4 linked regions of the Homo sapiens genome follow. The protein of the gene in region 3 purifies or fractionates together with the protein of the main gene of each other region. This does not show direct contact. Each region holds a gene or a part of one and is shown on either strand. Other genes may lie near its edges.

Region 1 (5,101 bases), on a different chromosome or scaffold from region 3:
TTGAAAAAGAACAAAGTTGGAGGATTCATACTTCCTGATTTCAGAAATTACTACAAAGCTAGTAACTTCTAGTAACAGTAATTAAGAGAGTGTCAGCTGGGTGTGGTGGCTGATACCTGAAATCCCAGCACTTTGGGGGGTCGAGGTGGGTGGATCACTTGAGGTCAGGAGTTTGAGACCAGCCTGGCCAAAATGGGAAAACCCCATCTCTACTAAAAATACAAAAATTATCCAGGTATGGTGGAGCGTGCTTGTAATCCCAGCTATTTGGGAGGCTGAAGCAAGAGAATTGCTTGAACCCGGGAGGTGGAGGTTGCAGTCAGACAAGATCGTGCCATTCCCTGGGCAGCAGAGTAAGACTCTGTCTCAAAAATAAATAAATAAATAAAAGACAGTATAGTAGTCGCATAAGAATAGACACAGATGAAGGAACAGAATTGAGAGTCTAGAAATCAACCCATACATCTATGGTCAATTTATTTTTTATAAAGATGCTGTGGTATAATAAAAATTAAATATTTGGTCTTTATTCCCAGTTCCTGACACAGAATTCATAAAACATTTGAGATTTACTATTTTTTGAATGTTAATGAGATGACTCTTGTGGAGAGGAGAGCAGTCCTAGGTAGCTTCAGGATGGGGGCTGGTAGCCAGAAAAACCAACCATGTGATTAGAGAGTTAGAACTTTCAGTCTACTCATCTGACAAAGGGCTAATATCCAGAATCTACAAAGAACTCAAACAAATTTGCAAGAAAAAAACAAACAACCCCATCAAAAAGTGGGCGAAGGATGTGAACAGACACTTCTCAAAAGAAGACATTTATGCAGCAAAAAGACACATGAAAAAATGCTCATCATCACTGGCCATCAGAGAAATGCAAATCAAAACCACAATGAGATACCATCTCACACCAGTTAGAATGGCAATCATTAAAAAGTCAGGAAACAACAGGTGCTGGAGAGGATGTGGAGAAATAGGAACACTTTTACACTGTTGGTGGGACTATAAACTAGTTCAACCATTGTGGAAGTCAGTGTGGTGATTCCTCAGGGATCTAGAACTAGAAATACCATTTGACCCAGCCATCCCATTACTGGGTATATACCCAAAGGACTATAAATCATGCTGCTATAAAGATACATGCACACGTATGTTTATTGTGGCACTATTCACAATAGCAAAGACTTGGAACCAACCCAAATGTGCAACAATGATAGACTGGATTAAGAAAATGTGGCACATATACACCATGGAATACTATGCAGCCATAAAAATGATGAGTTCATGTCCTTTGTAGGGACATGGATGAAATTGGAAATCATCATTCTCAGTAAACTATCGCAACGACAAAAAACCAAACACCACATATTCTCACTCGTAGGTCGGAATTGAACAATGAGAACACATGGACACAGGAAGGGGAACATCACACTCTGGGGACTGTTGTGGGGTCAGGGGAGTGGGGAGGGATAACATTAGGAGATACACCTAATGCTAAATGACGAGTTAATGGGTGCAGCACACCAGCAAGGCACATGTATACATATGTAACTAACCTGCACATTGTGCACATGTACCCTAAAACTTAAAGTATAATAATAATAATAAATAATAATAATAATAAAGAACTTTCAGTCTCACTCCCTACTCCAACCTCCAGGGAGTGGAGAAGAGATATTGAGTGCAGTCACCAATAATGTAATCAATCATGCCTATGCAATGAAACCTCCATAAAGACCTAGGCATGGGGTTCAGAGAGCTTCTGGGTTGGTGAACACAGTGATGGGCTAGGAAGGCACCTGGAAAGGGCCTGGTGGTGCTGCCCCACCCACCCCTAACCCCTCACATTTTGTCCTATGTATCTCTTCCATTTGGCTACTCCTGAGCTGAATCCTTTATAATAAAAGAGTAAACATAAGTATTTTCCTGAGTTTTGTGATTGGTTCTAGCAAATTATCAAATCTGAGGAGAGGGTTGTGGGAACACCCAGTTGGTCAGAAGTATGGGTGTCTCCCGAGACTTGAGACTGTTGTCCGAAGTGAGAGCAGTCTTGTGGAACGGATCCCTTAACCTGTGGGGTCTATGTTAATTCCAGGAGTTGGTGTCAGAATTGAATGGAATTGTTGGACACCCAGTTAGTACTAGAGAATTGGAGAATTGGTTGTTGGTGCTGGAAAATACCACACATTTGGTGTAAGAAAAGGAATCAGAAAAAAGACATTACAGATGCCAGCATAATTCAATGAGGACAGAATAGTCTTTTCAATGAATAGTTCTGGGACAACTGGCTATACATATGAAAAGACTAAAGTTGGACACCTACCTCACGTCATATGCAAGAATTAACTCATGACTGATTACAGAACTAAATGCAAAAGCTAAAACTATAAAACTCTTAGAAGAAAACATAGGTTTAAATCTTCACGAACTTGGATTAGACAATGGTTACTTGTATATGACACCAAAAGTACATGTGAACCAAGGAAAAATACATATTCTGGACTTCATCAAAATTAAAAAGTTTTGTATTTCAATGGACACCATCAAGAAAGTAAAAAAACAACCCACAGAATGGGAGAAAAGTTCTGCAAATCATGTACCTGATAAGGTTCTTATATCTAGAATATATAAAGAACTTCCATAGCTAAACAATAAAAAGACAAATTACCCAATTATGAAAATGGCAAAGGATATGAATAGACATTTCTCCAAAGAAGATACATGAGTGATGTGCAGGAGAAGCACTCCTACTTCCACATGCCTGCATATGGACTCTATAGGTGACTATAAAACCCTCAATTACATTATAACTTCCCATCCCAAATCTCCATCTGACTTTCTCCCTCTGGATGTCCCACATACCTAAACTTAACACTTCAAGCCCAACCCATCAAAAATGGAACTCATTATTTTCTTGTCTCTCTCTCCATGTCTCCAACATATAGACGGTGGTCAAGTTAGAAAGGTTGCCATCATTTGCCATTTTTCTCTTTCCCTTCAATATCTTATGAAATTGATCACCAAATCTAGATGATTTTATCTCCCATCTCTCAGTCTTCACTGCTGCTACCTTGGTAGAGACCCCAGCTTCTCTATTGGATCAGCAGAGCTGTGCCTCAGGCAGCCCTCCAGCTCCAATCAGACCTCACTGCTTTGTTGTCAGCTGTATTCCAATGCCTAGCCCTAGGCCTGGCACAGAGCTAGCAGTTATTATACATTAGTTGAATAAATGGCCAAATAAAATGGGGAAGAAAAATAGAATATTAGAAGATGTGATATGATAGTTGAGTGGGCTTGACATCAATATTCACCAAATTAATGGAACAAACATCAGAAATGAAACATCAAAGAGGCAATGGAGTCATAAATAGAAAGCAACCTGAGGACTTATAAAGAAACAAATCATGTTGGACAAACATGAATTATGGTGAAAAATGCAGCAGACATGTTATACATTTGATATTTTGAATTATCTTTGTCACATCGTGTTATGAAAACATCCTTGTAAAACTGGGGCAAATTGACTATCTGAAGATACACAGCATAAAACCAGAAACAGTTAATAGAAATGGCAGGAAATATGCAAAGAGAAAGCTCCAGGAGGCCGGGTGCGGTGGTTCACACCTGTAATCCCAGCACTTTGGGAGGCTGAGGTGGGCAGATTGCCTGAGGTCAGGAGTTTGAGACCAGCCTGGGCAACATGGTAAAACCCTGTCTCTACTAAAAAAAAATTACAAAAAATTAGCCGGCGTGATGCCGGGTGCCTATAATCCCAGCTACTGAGGAGGCTGAGGCAGGAGAATCGCTTGAACCCAGGAGGCAGAAGTCGCAGTGAGTCAAGATCACGCCACTGTACTCTAGCCTGGGCAACGAGAGCAAAACTCCATCTGAAAAAATAAAAGAGAGAAAGCTCCAGGAAATCATTGCCCTTCTGTGTTCCAGGAAATAGTTGCCCTTCTTTAAAACATATACAAGTGATTGAACCAGTATTTTTTATTCATTGTATGAATCCTTGGTCATGAAAGGGAGAAAACTCTCTGGGTCTCTCTCTGTTTCTCTTTCTCTCTCTCTCAGCCTCCCACATTTCCCTTTTGCATCCTGAGAATATGGAACTAGATTTAGCTAAAATAAGTGATTCTACAATAAATGTTGAATTACATGAAGATACTTACCCAAAGCCTATAGCCACCCAGTAGTTTCTGACCCCCTGATGGGGCCCCACCATAGGCAGAATGTCAGGAGAATACGTGATAGGACCATTGACAACATTGATGATGTCAGCCTTTTTCAAGACAGGAACCATTTCCATGGCAGCTTTGATGTGTTCCATGATTCGATCTAGATCAGACTCAAAGAGTTCCTTTCCAAAACCTAAAAAGATTTGCCCTTGTGGTCAGGATGCCGTAGCTGAGCTGACAAGTCCTGTAAAGTGATTTAAGCCTCTGACATGGCCTACATTTAAAGATGGCCTGTTAGGAAAGTACTGCCATTTTTTGTTAAAGTCTAAATTTCATATTCCCTATCAACAGATGAGTATCCATTTATATTACTGAAAACAATGGTATTGTTCTTGAAACAAAATCATAAAAGTTAACCTTTAATTAATATAAAATTTAAATGTATGAATAATATAGTTTCTGATATTTAATCCAATCAGTTTTTTTTAAAAAAAAACTATAATTTGGTTTGTCAAGAAGATCGTTATGCTTCAATTAACCATAAGAACCTGTTTCATCCCCTGAGATGAGGGCAAATGGGAGTTTACAAAGTCATGGCAGAATACTGGAAAAAGTGGAACACTCCTCCAAGATCTAAGATGATGGATTTTAGACCCCTTTTAACTCTCCTTTCAGCAAGAAAGGAATGGTGTGGAGGCCTCCTTCCTCCAGCCTGCCCCCATACACATCCAAGGGCTAGAGTTCTGAAAACAGGCAGGGTCTTGAAGTGCAATCCTCCTCTTGTCCTAAAAGTCATTGTGATGAGCTTCTAAAAGAATGTCTCTACCAACACTAGTGATTTTTCCACACAGCAGCCAGCCAGCTTCTTGCCCTTCCTGGGGACTACAGGTAGGGTCAGTCTCATGGAGGCCTGCAGACCA
Region 2 (5,101 bases), on a different chromosome or scaffold from region 3:
TCATTACGCTTGCTACCAGGGGTGCACAGAGACTTAACGGGTGAATGAAGAGAAGCAGCATATGGGTGACCGTGTAAGAAAGGCAGGTATCGTGGAGTGGAACTGTGGGTGGGCAGAATCATGGAGAGCTGGAGGGCTGAGGAGTCAACTGGAGGCGCATTCAAGCCTTTAGATGGACCCTGCGGCCCAGTCGGTGAGCTGCTAAGGGCTGAGCAGGAGAAGCACCAGAGGGGGCCTGAGTGCAGCCTCGGCTGTGATGTTGTGATGTCATTCTGCGCCATCTCCAGCAGGGGCACGCGCTCAGCTTAGTGACCCGAGGCGTTCCGAGCCTCGGCGTCCCCATGTAACCATGTGGTCACAGTAAGATCCACCCAGAGGACTCTAAATGGGGGACAAACAGCACACAAACAAAAACAATCAGAGCGGCGCAGTGCAGCCCTCAGTGAGCGCCAAGAGAACCCTGTCAGCCCTAAACCGAGTATATTGATTATAGGGTGATTAGCTGTACAGGACCCAGTATTCGTTTATGGGGTTTTTTTCTTCCCCTTTATTTTCTGGCTGATGATACAGAATATCTTAAAAGCAATTAAGGATTAAATGTTCAGCCCATTAAGACAATCATGGAAGAGAATGTTCTGGCAGAGTCTAGATAGTAGGTTCCATCCACGCCACACACATCCTGGCGATTTTCAAAACGTTAAAATACTAAAAACCTTAATACTGAAACCAGCCTGTCCATAATGTCATCTGTCTGTGGCGATTCAGAAGACAGCACAGGTTTCTGCAATGAATGCCTCAAGGGTTATGATCCCAGACACCGATGTCACCAGAAGACCTTCCGCGGAACGGACGTCAGGCCAAGCAGTCCTGAGATCTGCTGGCTTCTACCTAAACGGGACTTGGTTCCTGAATACTCAGTTCATCAGTGTCACCACACATCCTCATCTTCAGTGTCCCGCTCCCTTCTAAATTCAGATAAAGATACAATTTTATTGTTAACAACATGAGTGAATGGCTTCTCTCCACCCCAGGTGATGCTTCCACGGGCCACTTCATGAAGTGCATAGACCTGGGGGCTCATGTCCCAGATTCAGGAGAGCCTCAGACACAGTCTGCCTCCGAATTTAGACGTCTGTTTACTCAACCAGCGCTAGTTAAGTCCCTGTTCTGTGGAGGTTCCAGAACTGCAGGGTTACAGCCCTGCCTTCTCATGGGCTTACAATCTAGCAGGGACAGAAAGGCCCGGGAGGGGCTGCAGCTCCCAAGTGACAGCTCTGGATCCGGGCAAGGATAAAGACACCCCCGGGTGGCATGGAGGAGCAGACTAAAGGTCAGGCGTCTGCCCATGTCCAAAGCCAAAGTCGTGGTACATAAGGCACTGCCCACCCCTCGCACCTTATGTCCTAGGGGCACGGCACAGTCACGCAGATGACTCAGCTGCGCCTTAGGAAATCCAAGCATGACTATGAGACCACATCACAGAGGAAAGGGGTGCCAGGGCCGCCAGCTGCCAGGGCAGAGGTAAGGACGGGGCAGCCCTGCACCTAAATCTGCCATCTATGCTCCCACAGCCCCACTGTGCGCCCACCCTACGCAGGGCAGCAGGGAGAAGGGGACTTCCAGGCCCACTAACTGGAAAGACAGTCCGTGGAACACAGCACAGTGGGCACTATGGGTCAGACAAAGACACTGAAAACAGCGAGAAAAGGCCTGGAGAACTGGCTGGTTAATTTTAGTAAAATTATACATTACTCACATTTCCAGCTCATTTTCCTGGTTCCCGGAGCTTCAAGACAGACATTGTTTTCCAGGCCCCGCTCGCCCGGATGAATCACCTCCCGGCCACTGCTTCCCAGGCGTCATGTGCTCCCGGGGACGGCAGAAAACCGCACGCATCCTGCCCGGGAGATGGAAGTCGCCTCCGCTCCTGGTCAGGACTGTGCCCGAGAGAGCCCACGGCATCCCCGCGAACACCCAAAGGACTCTGAGTGGCTCCGTGCCAGGCCTATCAGAGCCGCTGAGGCTGCACGGCACCCGGCCCCGCCCCGGGCCTCATCCCCATCCTAGGCGGGCACTTCCACTGCCAGCTGCCCACGGAGAGAAAGATGGAAAGAGGAGGGAGGGAAAGAGAGGCCTACAACACCATCATCCAGGACAGAGCTTTCTGAGTACTGAAAGCCACACGCTCTCTAAGCTAAGAAACCAAGAATGTCCATAACATCTGGGGAAAAGTAAACCAGATTCCAAGCAGTGACATTGAAAGAATCCATCACGTGAAAGAAGTGCACTGCGTCTATTTGATACTCATTAAAATGAGTTTCCCACCCTCCAACAAACGTGCTTTGGGATGCTTAGCCCTTAGCCCCATCACCTGACGTTCTGAGCCTGCGCTGGGCTTCATTCACCGTGGACTGCCACAAGCTACACTGATCTGAGTCTGAGTTCCTCTGCCTGGGGAGGGGGTATGGGTACAAGACATTTTGAGGATACATTCTGGGGTCCCCAAAGGCCCCTGAGCACCATGGCATGGCAGGTGCTCCCACCCAGTGAAAGAGATGAGGCCCAGGGCAGCCTTGGGCCCTGGCCTCCCAAAAACCAACATCCTGAGGCGGCAAAGCAGCCCGTCCCCATGCCAGGCGTTGCCTGGCAGGAGTAGAATGAAGGCTATGCAGAGACATCCCCCAAGCACCAGAGTCCAGGTGGAGACAAGAGATTCAAAGGAGGAGGGGCCGGCACAGGGCCAGTGAGTGGGCCGGGACACAGCCCCATCTCCAGCCCTTTCGTCCTCTCTCTCCCACCGCAGCAGTTACAGGAGAATCCGACATCTGAGAACTGGCAGGACAGCCAGTCGTTCACACAGTCTTAACACATCATAATGAGACTGCTGGCTGGGCATGGTGACGTGCACCTGTGGTCCCAGCTACTTGGAGGCTGAAGTGGGAGGATCACCTGGGCCCAGGAGGTGGAGGCTACAGTGAGCCATGGTCACGCCACTGCACTTTAGCCTGGGTGACAGAGCAAGACCCTGTCTTTAAATAAATAAGATTGCTAGCACATCTTTAATCTTAAAAAGCTTCCTCAGAAAACAGACTTAATGCCACTGAAGGGTGCCCTGAAACCTGGTTAAAGTGGTCAGCTGTATGCTCTGCTAATTTACTACAGCTTTTTAAATAATAAAATTTTACCTGAATAATATAGACAGAACTTCCTCCCAACCTTTACCTGCTGCCCCCTGGGGTTTCTGATGTGCACAGGGCAGGTCAGCACCATCCCAGTTTTACAGAAGAGATGACCAAGGTGGAGAAGATGAAGGCTTTGCCTAGACATGCTGCCCACCACAGACACCGGCCCTGTGGCATCAGCCGCTCAGGGTCGTCACACCAGGCCCACCAAGAGACTCTCCATCACCTCGCAGCTCCATCCCAAGCTGCCAGGAGGCCTTTCCGACCCACCAGCACCATTTCCACCCACCTTCCTGCCCCAACTGCAGAGACACAGGAAAGGAGCAGTGCGGAGATGCCGGCCACCAAGGTCTGTCCCCGGACAGTCCTGCCACGCTGGCTTTCTCAGTCAGTAAGCTTCTGAAGCACAGCTCCCAGGGGACCCCGGTCCCTGGCTGGACCGTGCACTCCCGGGAAGGCTGACACTGCAGCCCCCACGCCCTAATCTCCTTGGCTCCGCACGGGTGACCACATACCAGATGTTCTAATAACTGTCCATAGAGTAAATAAATCATTAAGGTACACATAGTATGTGTGAGTCCAGTTAACAGCGTTTGTGGCAAATGACAAGGGAGTTAAGGAGATTTCAGAGAAAATGACTGGTGGCAAAGACTTTTTTCTGAAAAAGCAAAATTTAAGGAACATTTAAATGTTGGGCATAAACAGTGGTGAGATGTCTTCTCCCTTTTAGTCCCTTCCTCCAACTTCTGTTGTCCTCCTCACCTCCTCCCTGCTTCTAAATGTCCCCGAGCTCATCCAAAGCACCCCACAACACACACACAGGAGTGAACTCATCACCGTGGCTTCTCTCCCCTTGTGAGTGGGAGAATTCACTGCTTCCCAGTGAGCAACAAGGTGCCTGGGTGTGTCCCCAAGACATCCTGGTCAAGCTGCGTCACTCCTCTGTGCCAATTTTAGACGGGAAGTGAGGGAAGTGGTTGCAAAGGAAGGCCTGGGTGAAGACGATGTTTGCCGAGGTGGCGGAGGCTGAGGCAGAGACACCCTCCTAAGTACAAATGGCAAGAAGTGTGTCGTGGGCAGGAAAAAGCTGGCAAAATACCGGCATTCGGACTGTCCCAAAGACAGAGATGACCCTGAGGCTCCTGGCTTCAATAGCGGGGTCCATCCTCGCTGGCAGGGACACAGGGCAGAGACTGTCTCTGCCTTCTATGCGTCAGCAACTACTGCCATAGCTTAACATTGCTTAATAATTGAAAAAAAGCCACCAAAAAGTCAAGGGAATGAAACCCGAGTGCGAATGCCGCCACAGCCAGCATCACTGCCACAACCATCCACCCACGTAATGTTTCCCCCATTAACTCTCCATAAAGGGGCCAGGTGCAGTGACTCACGCCTGTAATCCCAGCACTTTGGGAGGCCAACGTAGGTGGACTGCTTAGGCCCAGGAGTTCGAGACCAGCCTGGGCAACATGGCAAAACCCCGTCTCTACAAAAAATACAAAAATTAGCTGGGCATGGTAGCGCCTGTAATCCCAGCTACTCAGGAGGATGGCTGGAGCCCAGTAAGTTAAGGCTACAGTGAGCCATGACAGAGCCACTGCACTCCAGCCTGGGCAACAGGGTAAGACCCTGTCTCAGGAAATAAAAATAAAATACTCCCCACAAAGGTAGTGTCCCTCTTTTTGCTGGTTCAGATTTCAGAAATCAACTCCATGGACCCGGCAACACAGGACTCATTTGCTCCATCTATTGCGAGACAGCTGTGGCTTGCGGTCCCAGCGTGAGAAGCCTATTGGCCGGGCACAGTGGCTCACACCTGTAATCTCATCACTTTGGGAGGCCGAGGCCGGCAGATGGCTTTAGCCTAGGAATTCAAGACCAGCCTGGGAAACATGGCAAAACCCTGTCTCTACTAAAAA
Region 3 (5,101 bases):
CACTCAGGCGTTAGGTTCCCTCTACATTTTTGGCACTTGAGGATTTCTCTTTCTTTCAAGTTCATTCAGTCAACAAATATTTATTGAAAAATCTTCCATAATCCAGGCCCTATTCTGGACACAACAGTGAACAAAACAGACAAGATCTCTGACTTTAACAAATTAAGATGGGGCAAGGCAGGGGGATGGGCAGAAGACAGGGAAGAGAAGGCAACAGACACAAAACAAGTACACAATACGTCAAGTAATAAGAACGTGTTTTGTGAAAAAAAGTAAAGCACAGCAAGGGGAAGAAAGCATCAAGGAGGTAAGGGGAAGGATTATTTCATATGGGGTAGCCAGGGACAGCCTCTATTATAACAGACAACATTTTAACACAGACCTAAAAAGAGTGAGGAAGCAAGCCATGTGAACGGCTAGGGGAACAATGTTCCAGGACAACAGCAAGTGCAAAGGCCATGAGGCAGGAGTATGTCTAGTTTACCTGAGGAAAAGCAAGAAGGTCAGCGCAGTGTGATTGTATCAGGGGATGGGGAGGTAAGTGGTTCAGAGACAACATCATTGAGGCACCAGGGGGCCTACTGTGGGGCCATAGAAAAGGTTTTGAATTTTACTCAGCTATGAACTCAATTAAGTTATAATTTAACCGCATTTTTACATGTTGGTAAAGACAGAGAGGGACACATTAGCTCAGTCTACCACACGGTAAGAACCAGATAACCAGGCAGCTTTACCAATGACTCTAGGCCTGCTTTCATATGGCTGTGACTTTAGTTTTACTGGACAGAATGGGATGTTCTTAACGAGAGTAAACATATTATTCTTTCATAAAAAAGTAAGACACCCCAATATGTCTTCTAAAATATAAATACAAATATCCTCAACAAAATACCAGCAAACGGAATCTAGAACAATATAAAAAGGATCATCATCGCCAAGTGGGTCTTATCCCAGGAATACAAGGTTGGCTCAATATATGAAAAATCAATTATTATAACAGGCCATATCAATAGAATAAAGAACAAAATCTACATGGTCTTCTCAACAAACGCAGAAAAAGCACGACAAAATCCAATGCCCCTTCAAGTTAAAAGTACTCAGCAAACTAGAAGAAAAATTCCTCAACCTGACAAAAGTTATTACAAAACCTACAGCTAACATCATTCTTAATGCTGAAAGACTGAATGCTTTCCCCTATAATCTAGGGAATGTCTACTCTTGGCAGAGTAGACAGGGATGTCTACTCTTGGCATTTCTATTCAACATTGTACCAGAAGTTCTATCTAGGGTAAGTAGGCAAGAAAATGAAACAAAAGGCATCCAGTTTAGAAAAGAAGAAGTAAAACTATCTCTATTTGCAATTGACATAATCTTGAATACAGAAAATCCTAAAGAATCCACAAACAAAATTAGAACTAATAACTGAGTTCATCAAGAATGCAGGATACAAAAATCAATATTTAAAAAATCAATTTGACTTCTATATCCTTGTAATGAGCAATTCAAAAATAAAATTAAGAAAAGTCCATTTACAATATCAAAAACAAAAAATAGTTAGAAATAAATTTAACAAAAGAAGTGCAAAATGTACACCACAAAAACTAAAAAAGACTGCTGAAAGTAACTGAAGAAGACCTAAATAAACAAAAGCTATTCCATGGTCATGGATTGGAAGGTTTACTATTGGTAAGATGGCAGTAATTCCCAAATTGATCTATGGACTCAATGCATTCCCTGCCAAAATTCTAGCTAGCTTGGAGGTTGAAACTGACAAGCAGATTCTAAAATTCATATGGAAATGCAAGGGACCCAGAATAGCCAAAACAATCTTGAAAAAGAACAAAATCTTGAAAAGAACTCTTCCATCCCAATTTCAAACCTAAATACAAGACAGTGTGGTGCTAGCATAAGAATGGACTTACAAATGAGTAAAACAGAATTAACAGTCCAGAAATAAACCCTCACAACTGTCAACTGATTTTTGAGGATGCCAAAACCATTCAATGGGGAAGGAATAGTCTCTTCCACAAATGGTGCTGGGACAAGTGAATATCCACATGCAAAAGAATAAAGTTTCCAACATGGCAAAACTCCGTTTCTACAAAAAATACAAAAATTAGTCAGGCATGGTGGTGTGCACCTGTAGTCTCAGCTACTCTGGAGGCTGAGGTGGGGTGGATCACTTGAGCCCTGGAGGTCAAGGCTGCAGTGAGCCATGATAGCACCACTGCACTCCAGCTTGGGTTACAGAGCAAGACCCTGCCTCAAAAAAAAAAACAAAAAAACAAAAAAGCCCAGGCACAATGACTCACATCTGTAATCCCAGCACTTTGGGAGGCCAAGGCAGGCAGACTGCCTGAGTCCCAGGGTTCGAGACTAGCTTGGGCAACATGGCAAAACCCATCTCTACAAAATTTACAAAAATGAGCCAGGTTTGGTGGTGCACACCTGTGGTCCCAGCTACTTAGGAGGCTGAGGCAGGAGGATCGCTTAAGCCAGAGAGGTTGAGGCAGCAGTGAGCTGTGATCGCCCCACTGCAGTCTAGCCTTGGTGACACAGAGAGACCCTGTCTCAAAAAAAGAAAAATGAAGTTTAACCCACTTCATATCATATTCAAAAATTAACACAAATGGGCCGGGCACGGTGGCTCACGCCTGTAATCCCAGCACTTTGGGAGGCCGAGGTGGGCAGATCACGAGGTCAGGAGATCCAGACCATCCTGGCTAACACGGTGAAACCCTGTCTCTACTAAAAATACAAAAAATTAGCCAGGCATGGTGGCGGGCGCATGTAGTCCCAGCTACTCGGAAGGCTGAGGCAGGAGAATGGTGTGAACCCAGGAGGGGGAGCTTGCAGTGAGCTGAGATCGGGCCACTGCACTCCAGCCTGGGCGACAGAGCAAGAGAAAAGGAAAGAAAGAAAGGAAGACAGGAAGGAAGGAGAGGAAGGAGAGGAAGGAAAGGAAAGAAAGGAAAGAAAGGAAAGGAGGAAGGAAGGAAGGAAGGAAGGAGGGAAGGAAGGAAGGAAGGAAGGAAGGAAGGAAGGAAGGAAGGAAGGAAGGAAGGAAGGAGAGAGAGAAAAAAGAAAAAGAACGAAAAGGAAGGAAAGGAAGGAAAGAAAAGAAAGAAAGAAAATAAAAAAAAATTAACCCAAATGGATCACAGGTATGAACGTAGGCGCTAAACTGTAAAACTCTTATAGCGCAACCATAAGTCTGCCTGACCTTGGATTAGGCAATGACTTCTTTAGACACAAATCAAAAAGCACAGCAACAAAAGAAAAAAGAGATACACTGGACTTCATCAGAATTTAAAATGTTTGTGTTTCAAAGGATACCATCAAGAAAATGGATGACAACCCACAGAATGGGAGAAAACATCTGTAAATCTGTTGAGTCTAGTATCCAGAATATATAAAGAACTATTATAACTCAACAATAAAAAGACATATAACCCAATTTTAAATGGGCTAAGGATCTGAATAGACATTTCTCCAGCAAAAGTACACAAATGACCAAGAAGTACATGAAAAGATGCTCATCATTAGTCATTAGGGAAACACAAATCGAAACCACAATGTGATACCACTTCACACCCACTAGGAAGGTTATAATAAAAAAGATTGACAGTAACAAGTGCGGGTGAGGGTATAGAAAAAATTAGAACCCTCAAACATTCCTGATGAGAATGTAAAATGGTGTAATGGCTTTGGAAAACCATTCCTAGGTACACAATCAAGAAAATTGAAAATATATATCCTTATAAAAAGTTGTACACAAATATTCACAGCTGCATTATTTGTAACAGCCAAACTGTAGGAACAACTCAAATGCCCAACTGATAAATGGATAAATAAAAGTGTCTATCCATATAATGGAATGTTCTTTGCCAATAAAGGGAAATCACGCCAGGCGCGGTAGCTCACGCCTGTAATCCCAGCACTTTGGGAGGCTGAGACGGGCAGATCATGAGGTCAAGAGATAGAGACCATCCTGGCCAACATGGTGAAACCCCATCTCTACTGAAAATACAAAAATTAGCTGGGTGTGGTGGTGCACACCTGTAGTCCCAGCTACTCAGGAGGCTGAGGCAGGAGAATCACTTGAACCCGGGAGGTGGAGGCTGCAGTGAGCCAAGATCGTGCCACTGCACTCCAGCCTGGCAACAGAGCAAGACTCCGTCTCATTTAAAAAAAAAAAAAGAAAGAAAAGAAAGAAATCACACCTATGACATAGGTGAACCTTGAAAACATGCTAAGGGAAAAAGCCTAATACAAAAGACCACATAGTATATGATTCTATTCACATAAAATGTCCAGAATAGGCAAATCGGTAAAGACAGGAAGTAGACATGCAGTGTTGGTGGTTGCCAAGGGCTGAGGTGAGGAGTGACTGATTACAGGTAACAGGATTTCTTTCGGGGATGAAGAAAATGTTCTAAAATGATTGTGATGATAGTTGTACAACTCTGTGACTATACTAATAACTTGAATTGTACATTTTAACAGATGAATTGTATATAAGTGAATTATATCTCAATAAAGCCATTATAAATTTTATAACATCTCTTTCTTGTGGACAGGGATACAAGTCAGATTCTCACCGAATTTCCCATTACTTCATACGTAAGTTTCTAAGATGGTAAGTAACTGATCCCAATGACTGGTTCAGACACATGACTACAGAGGTGGAAGGTTATCATTTTTTTAGAGACAGGGTCTTGCTGTGTCACTCAGGCTGGAGTGCAGTGGCACAATCTTAGCTTATGGCAGCCTCAAACTCCTAAGCTCAAGCAATTCTCCTGCCTCAATCTCCCAAGGACCTAGGACTACAGGTATGTGCCATCACACCAACCTGATTTTTTTTTTTTAATAATTTTCTGAAGAGACAGGATCTCACCACATTGCCCAGTCTGGTCTCAAACTCCTGGCCTCAAGTGATCCTCCCACCTCAGCCTCCCAAAGTGCTGGGACTATAGGTGTGAGCCACCGTGCCTAGCCAAGGTTACCTTAAGGTAATCCTATTCATTCATTTTACAGAATAAAAAAACAAAGATAACTTACCATAGGCCATATAACTCAGTAGCCGCAAAGCCAAGACCAG
Region 4 (5,101 bases), on a different chromosome or scaffold from region 3:
TAGTTTTCAGTTATGGAAGGTTGGGCTTGTAATCTCAACTACTTGGGACGCTGAGGCAGGAGGATCATTTGAGCCCCGCAGTTTGAGGCTGTAGTAAGTTATGACTGCACCACTGCACTCCAGCCTGGGTAACAGTGAGACTCTATCTCTTAAAAAAATTATGCTGAGAATATTTTCTGAGTTGTCACATGGGTCTTGTGATAAACTAATAATGCAAACTTTTATTTTTCATTATATATAAATATTGGATTTATCCCAACCAAACTAGTTTGCAGGGAACCTCTGCCTTTATTTCACGGCTGGAGAATGAGATACAAAAGATGTCAATTTCCATCGTAAGAACTTTCCACAGTAGTGTTCTTTGGACATTCTCTCCCTTGTATTAGGCTCCTCAGAAATCTATCTCCAGACTGAAACCAGCACATTCTGATGAGATCATAGCTTAGTACTCAGAAAAATCACTACTCAGTGGAATTCTTGAAATTTTGAAACAACTGATTTTAGCATACAGAATTTCAAAAAGAACATACATTACAGCCAGAAACGATTGTTTGCTCATGAATTTTGATTATTGGCAGACACATTTGCTGTAGCGGCAACTGTGCAAGAGTTCATTTTAACAGAATAATATGTTCTGAAATACTCTTTTATAATCAATATAAAATTCTAGAATGTTAATTCCTATAGCAAGAACTTGTGACATTATAAAATGTGGTTTACCATAGAAAGTCGCTAGATTTCCCATGTTTTCTTAAAATTAAATGTACTAAAAAATCCAAATGTAATAGAAAAATGCAATCACATAGGTGCTTTAAACAGACATTTCTGAATAACACTGCATTCTAACTCATGAGTACAAAGAAATGTGTATGCTATTTATACATTTTCTTAGTGTTCCCTACCTTTGGACTCCAATCATTTTAACGTATCCGTATACTGGAGATTTGATCACAGTATATGGCACTTCACAATAACATTCCATGTCCTAATAATGTGAAATGCCTGTATACAATCTGAGTATATTGTTTAGTCAGAAAACATCAAAATTAAGGATATAGGACATGGAATGTCTGTTAAGTGCTGAGTTTTTCTGACTAGAGTTTAATCTAGCCAGTGTTAATGTGGAAGCTGTATGCTTTTTTCATGGGCATGTTCGAATTTTTTCTTTCAAAATGTTTCTCAACTTTTTGATGTGACACTTTGTTTTCTCCCAAGTCACTCTAAGGGTTCTATCAACATCTTTCTTTGAAAACAGCCCAAAAACATATTTTTAAAATGAAAAAAAAATTCACAAGAGAATCAAGATTTGGTTTTAATCTATTATTTACATATTTGTAAACTGCTGTTAAAATGCTCTCAAAAATGTTATTTAGGAAGGCACAATTTGGTAGCATCAATTTTTTATTTATAGTTTTTTCTAAACAAGATCCGAAGAAACTTCCACTTTAATTTTCCCCTTGGAGTACTTAAAGTACTTCAAGGTTCAATGTCAAATGCAGATAAAACCCCTTCATTTTCAAACTTACTAAGTGTTAACAATACATTTGATAGTGAGCAGAATATGAAAGTACAGATGTTATCAAAAGAGGAAATTCTTATGATACTAGGTTCAGAGATTAAAGAATTTGAAACAAGGGCTTTCATGACTGGGGAAAATCAAAGCTTTTCTTGAAGGGAGTGGGCTTTTAATACTCGAGCTATTAATTAAATGCAGAAATGAGATAACATAGTTATCCTGAACATCAAAAAAGCAACAGCTAATACAGCTAATGCATTATAAATAATGTATTTCATAACTGAATTAGTAAAGCATGGTTACCACTCTAGGCTAGACACTAATCAGTATAACCATTTGTAGTTTCTAATTTTAAAAAGTTTGGCTTCATATTTAAATTTCATTTTACTATATATATATTACATATATACACACTGTTGTCTGTAACTCAAACTATAATGCTTGTCTGTAAAAAGAAGTTTTTTATTTCAGAGATGCTTAAAAGTCCCACTACTCAACCTTTTTCCTGTTTATAAAAACCAACAATTTTGAAATTACTTCTAGTGTAGAAATGCTCAATGATTCATCCAAAATTTCAAGCCCATATCAGTAGGTAGTTTCTCATAAAGTAATGTGCTGTATTTTCTAATATCATATGGTCAAATACCCTGTTCATTTATGAACATTTTTCATGGGCAAGAGTAACTGAAGACAATGGGATCAAGTTGAATATGTTGCTACTCACTTTGAATACTAAATTGTGCTTGCATCCTAAAAATTAAAATGAGCTGCAGTAAGAATTAGAATATAAACTGTGTTCATTTGTACCATACACTAAAAACTAAAATCCTAAAAATAAGAATGAAAATACCTTACTTGTTCATTGAAAAATGAAAGATGAGAAGCAATAACAATTGGTGACGATTTATTTTTATCTTTTGTTAAAGCTCTGAAATTGTAGTAAATCGCTAACTAAATTGAGGTAGAGGTAGACCCTAATGTTACTCCTTCCATGTGTCAAGTCTCTCACCTTAGGTCTCTAAGGTCACCTATAACTTAAGTCTCTCACCCTTAACTTAAATACATTTTCCCTCTTAGTACATAAGCATGATTCATTTTGGAATGTGTTGTCATGAAAGAAAAATTAAGATCATTCAAATGGTACTTTAAAAATTCTGAACTCCTAGCTAAAAAAATTCTCTTATAAAAATGTACACAAGGGCCGGGTGCGGTGGCTCACGCCTGTAATCCCAACACTTTGGGAGGCCGAGGTGGGTGGATCACCTGAGGTCAGGAGTTCAAGACCAGCCTGGCCAACGTGGCGAAACCCCATTTCTACTAAAAATACAAAAATTAGCCAGACATGTTGGCGCACGCCTGTAATCCCAGCTACTCGGGAAGCTGAGGCAGGAGAATCGCTTAAACCCAGGGGGCGGAGGTTGCAGTGAGCCGAGATTGTGCCATTGCACTCCAGCCTGGGCAACAAGAGTGAAACTCCATCTCAAAAAAACAAAAACAAAAACAAAAACAAACAAACAAAAAACACGCTAATTCAATCTTCCTTTTCTGAGAGTCTCAATTTGGAGAAAAATAATTCAATTTTCTATTTTGCTAGTAAGAAATATATTTGTTTCTCCTCCAATTGTAGAGGAAAACAAGGAAAGAGAAGATGTATGATGCAAACATCAACAGTTTCATAACGAAGACATCAGGAACATAACTAGGAGGGCTGAACATTTTACCATTCCTCCTTGAAGTTTACATATAAGCTTTGATTCATATTAAATTTTCTGCTAAAATAACTACTTCCTTTTCAGACTTCAATTCCATTAAACACACATCTATTTCCATTTTAAATCACATACAAGTGCTATGTGATCAGAGGGATGGGAAACACTAGGTAAGGCCTGGTGGGTGGTAACTTCTTCATGACTAGGTAATGGAATCACCTGTTCAACCTCTAAAGCATTTAAGTCAATGAAAATGTAATCTAGACATCCATGAAAGCCACCAACATAATTTGTGTAAGCAGGTTCACCACAAGCACTTTTCAGCTTGAAGAAATGTGTAAGAGACATATTGCATCTTTCCTCCTCCCCATTGGAAGCCCAGTCTTCATGATCCTCTGGAATGCTGCCATTGATGACAAAATGATACATTCCTGTTGATGGTGTACTATTAAAGTCCCCACAAAATATAACTGGTATGCCAGGATACAGATCACATGAAACATGTCTTATGTGAGCCAAGGCTACTGCCATTTGAATGAGGCGAATATACCCACCTATGAATATAAAAAACATTAATGTAAGTATTTTTTAAAGTTGTCTTTAAGTTAAAAAAGAAAAACTACACAAATTACAGTCTCTGGGTGACGTTCAAGATATGCATTTGTGTAAAACACTTTAAACAACTTTAAGCGTGTTTAAGTCACTTGTGATACCAAATAAAACCTACCTTTAGGATGCCAGTAAAGATGGGTATTAGCAACACATATCCTTTTAGAAGAGTCCTTTGTAGACTGAAGAACTGAAACCTAAAATAAACGGAAAGTGCCAAGAGTTCAGTTGGCATTTGCAAATCTCCTGAATGTTTTTGTTTGTTTGTTTGTTTTTTTGAGTTTTTTCGAGACAGTCTCACTCTGTCAACCAGGCTGGAGTGCAGTAGCGCGATCTCGGCTCACTGCAAGCTCCGCCTCCCGGGTTCAAGCGATTCCCCTGCCTCTGCCTCCGGAGTAGCTGGGACTACAGGCGCGTGCCACCACGCCCGGCTAATTTTTTTGTATTTGTAGTAGAGACGGGGTTTCATCGTGTTAGCCAGGATGGTCTCGATTTCCTGACTTGTGATCCACCCGCCTCGGCCTCCCAAAGTGCTGGGATTACAGGCATAAGCCACCAGGCCCGGCCTGTTTTTTATCTAAGACTAATGGCGAACTAACGTTTTCTTCCATCTCCTTCCCTTGATGAACTAGGACTGCAGTCATGAAATCCAACTTAAAGTTTCAGGATCTACATGACTAGGTTCAGTGTAACATGTTTTAATAATAGTCCAATATAGGCCGGGCGTGGTGGCTCACGCCTGTAATCCCAGCACTTTGGGAGGCTGAGGCGGGCGGATCACGAGGTCAGGAGATCGAGACCATCCTGGCTAACATGGTGAAACCCCAAACCCCGTCTCTACTAAAAAAATTAGCCGGGCGTGGTGGCACGCGCCTCTAGTCCCAGCTACTAGGGAGGCTGAGGCAGGAGAATCGCTTGAACCCGGGAGGCGGAAGTTGCGGTGAGCCGATATCGCGCCACCGTACTCCAGCCTAGGTGACAGAGACTCCGTCTCAAAATAATAATAATAATAATAATAGTCCAATATATAAAGCTAGTAATATAAACAATACATTTTACATGACAACACTTTGACTGGAGAAAGTGTTTTCAAGCGTAAGCACAGGCTTTGGAGTCAGGCAGACCTGGGTTTGAATACTCATTTCACCATTTATAGCAATGTGACCTGCAAAAAGATGCTTTTCTAGCCAGTTTCGTACTGGCAGTCACTGACAATACCATCCACCTCATGGGCTGTTGTGTGGAGTCAATTAAATGATCTTATAAG

The links. Proteins that work in one complex are often made in the same cells at the same time.
Region 1: the proteins of XPNPEP1 (region 3) and DMGDH fractionate together in Homo sapiens (co-fractionation; one large-scale study listed by BioGRID). This does not show direct contact.
Region 2: the proteins of XPNPEP1 (region 3) and VGLL4 purify together in Homo sapiens (co-immunoprecipitation; one large-scale study listed by IntAct). This does not show direct contact.
Region 4: the proteins of XPNPEP1 (region 3) and PDE12 fractionate together in Homo sapiens (co-fractionation; one large-scale study listed by BioGRID). This does not show direct contact.

The regions. Positions count from the first base shown.
Region 1 is NC_000005.10:79,038,108-79,043,208, forward strand, and holds part of DMGDH (dimethylglycine dehydrogenase, mitochondrial precursor), read right to left. Parts: intron 4,375-5,101; coding exon 4,176-4,374; intron 1-4,175. UniProt on the Homo sapiens protein: Catalyzes the demethylation of N,N-dimethylglycine to sarcosine. Also has activity with sarcosine in vitro.
Region 2 is NC_000003.12:11,566,849-11,571,949, forward strand, and holds part of VGLL4 (transcription cofactor vestigial-like protein 4), read right to left. Parts: intron 1,951-5,101; exon of another isoform or gene 1,759-1,950; coding exon of another isoform or gene 1,757-1,758; intron 1-1,756. UniProt on the Homo sapiens protein: May act as a specific coactivator for the mammalian TEFs.
Region 3 is NC_000010.11:109,915,848-109,920,948, forward strand, and holds part of XPNPEP1 (xaa-Pro aminopeptidase 1), read right to left. Parts: intron 1-5,101. UniProt on the Homo sapiens protein: Metalloaminopeptidase that catalyzes the removal of a penultimate prolyl residue from the N-termini of peptides, such as Arg-Pro-Pro. Contributes to the degradation of bradykinin.
Region 4 is NC_000003.12:57,558,240-57,563,340, reverse strand, and holds part of PDE12 (2',5'-phosphodiesterase 12 isoform 1 precursor), read right to left. Parts: intron 4,032-5,101; coding exon 3,953-4,031; coding exon of another isoform or gene 3,921-3,952; exon of another isoform or gene 3,780-3,920; coding exon 3,337-3,779; 3' UTR 1-3,336. UniProt on the Homo sapiens protein: Enzyme that cleaves 2',5'-phosphodiester bond linking adenosines of the 5'-triphosphorylated oligoadenylates, triphosphorylated oligoadenylates referred as 2-5A modulates the 2-5A system. Degrades triphosphorylated 2-5A to produce AMP and ATP.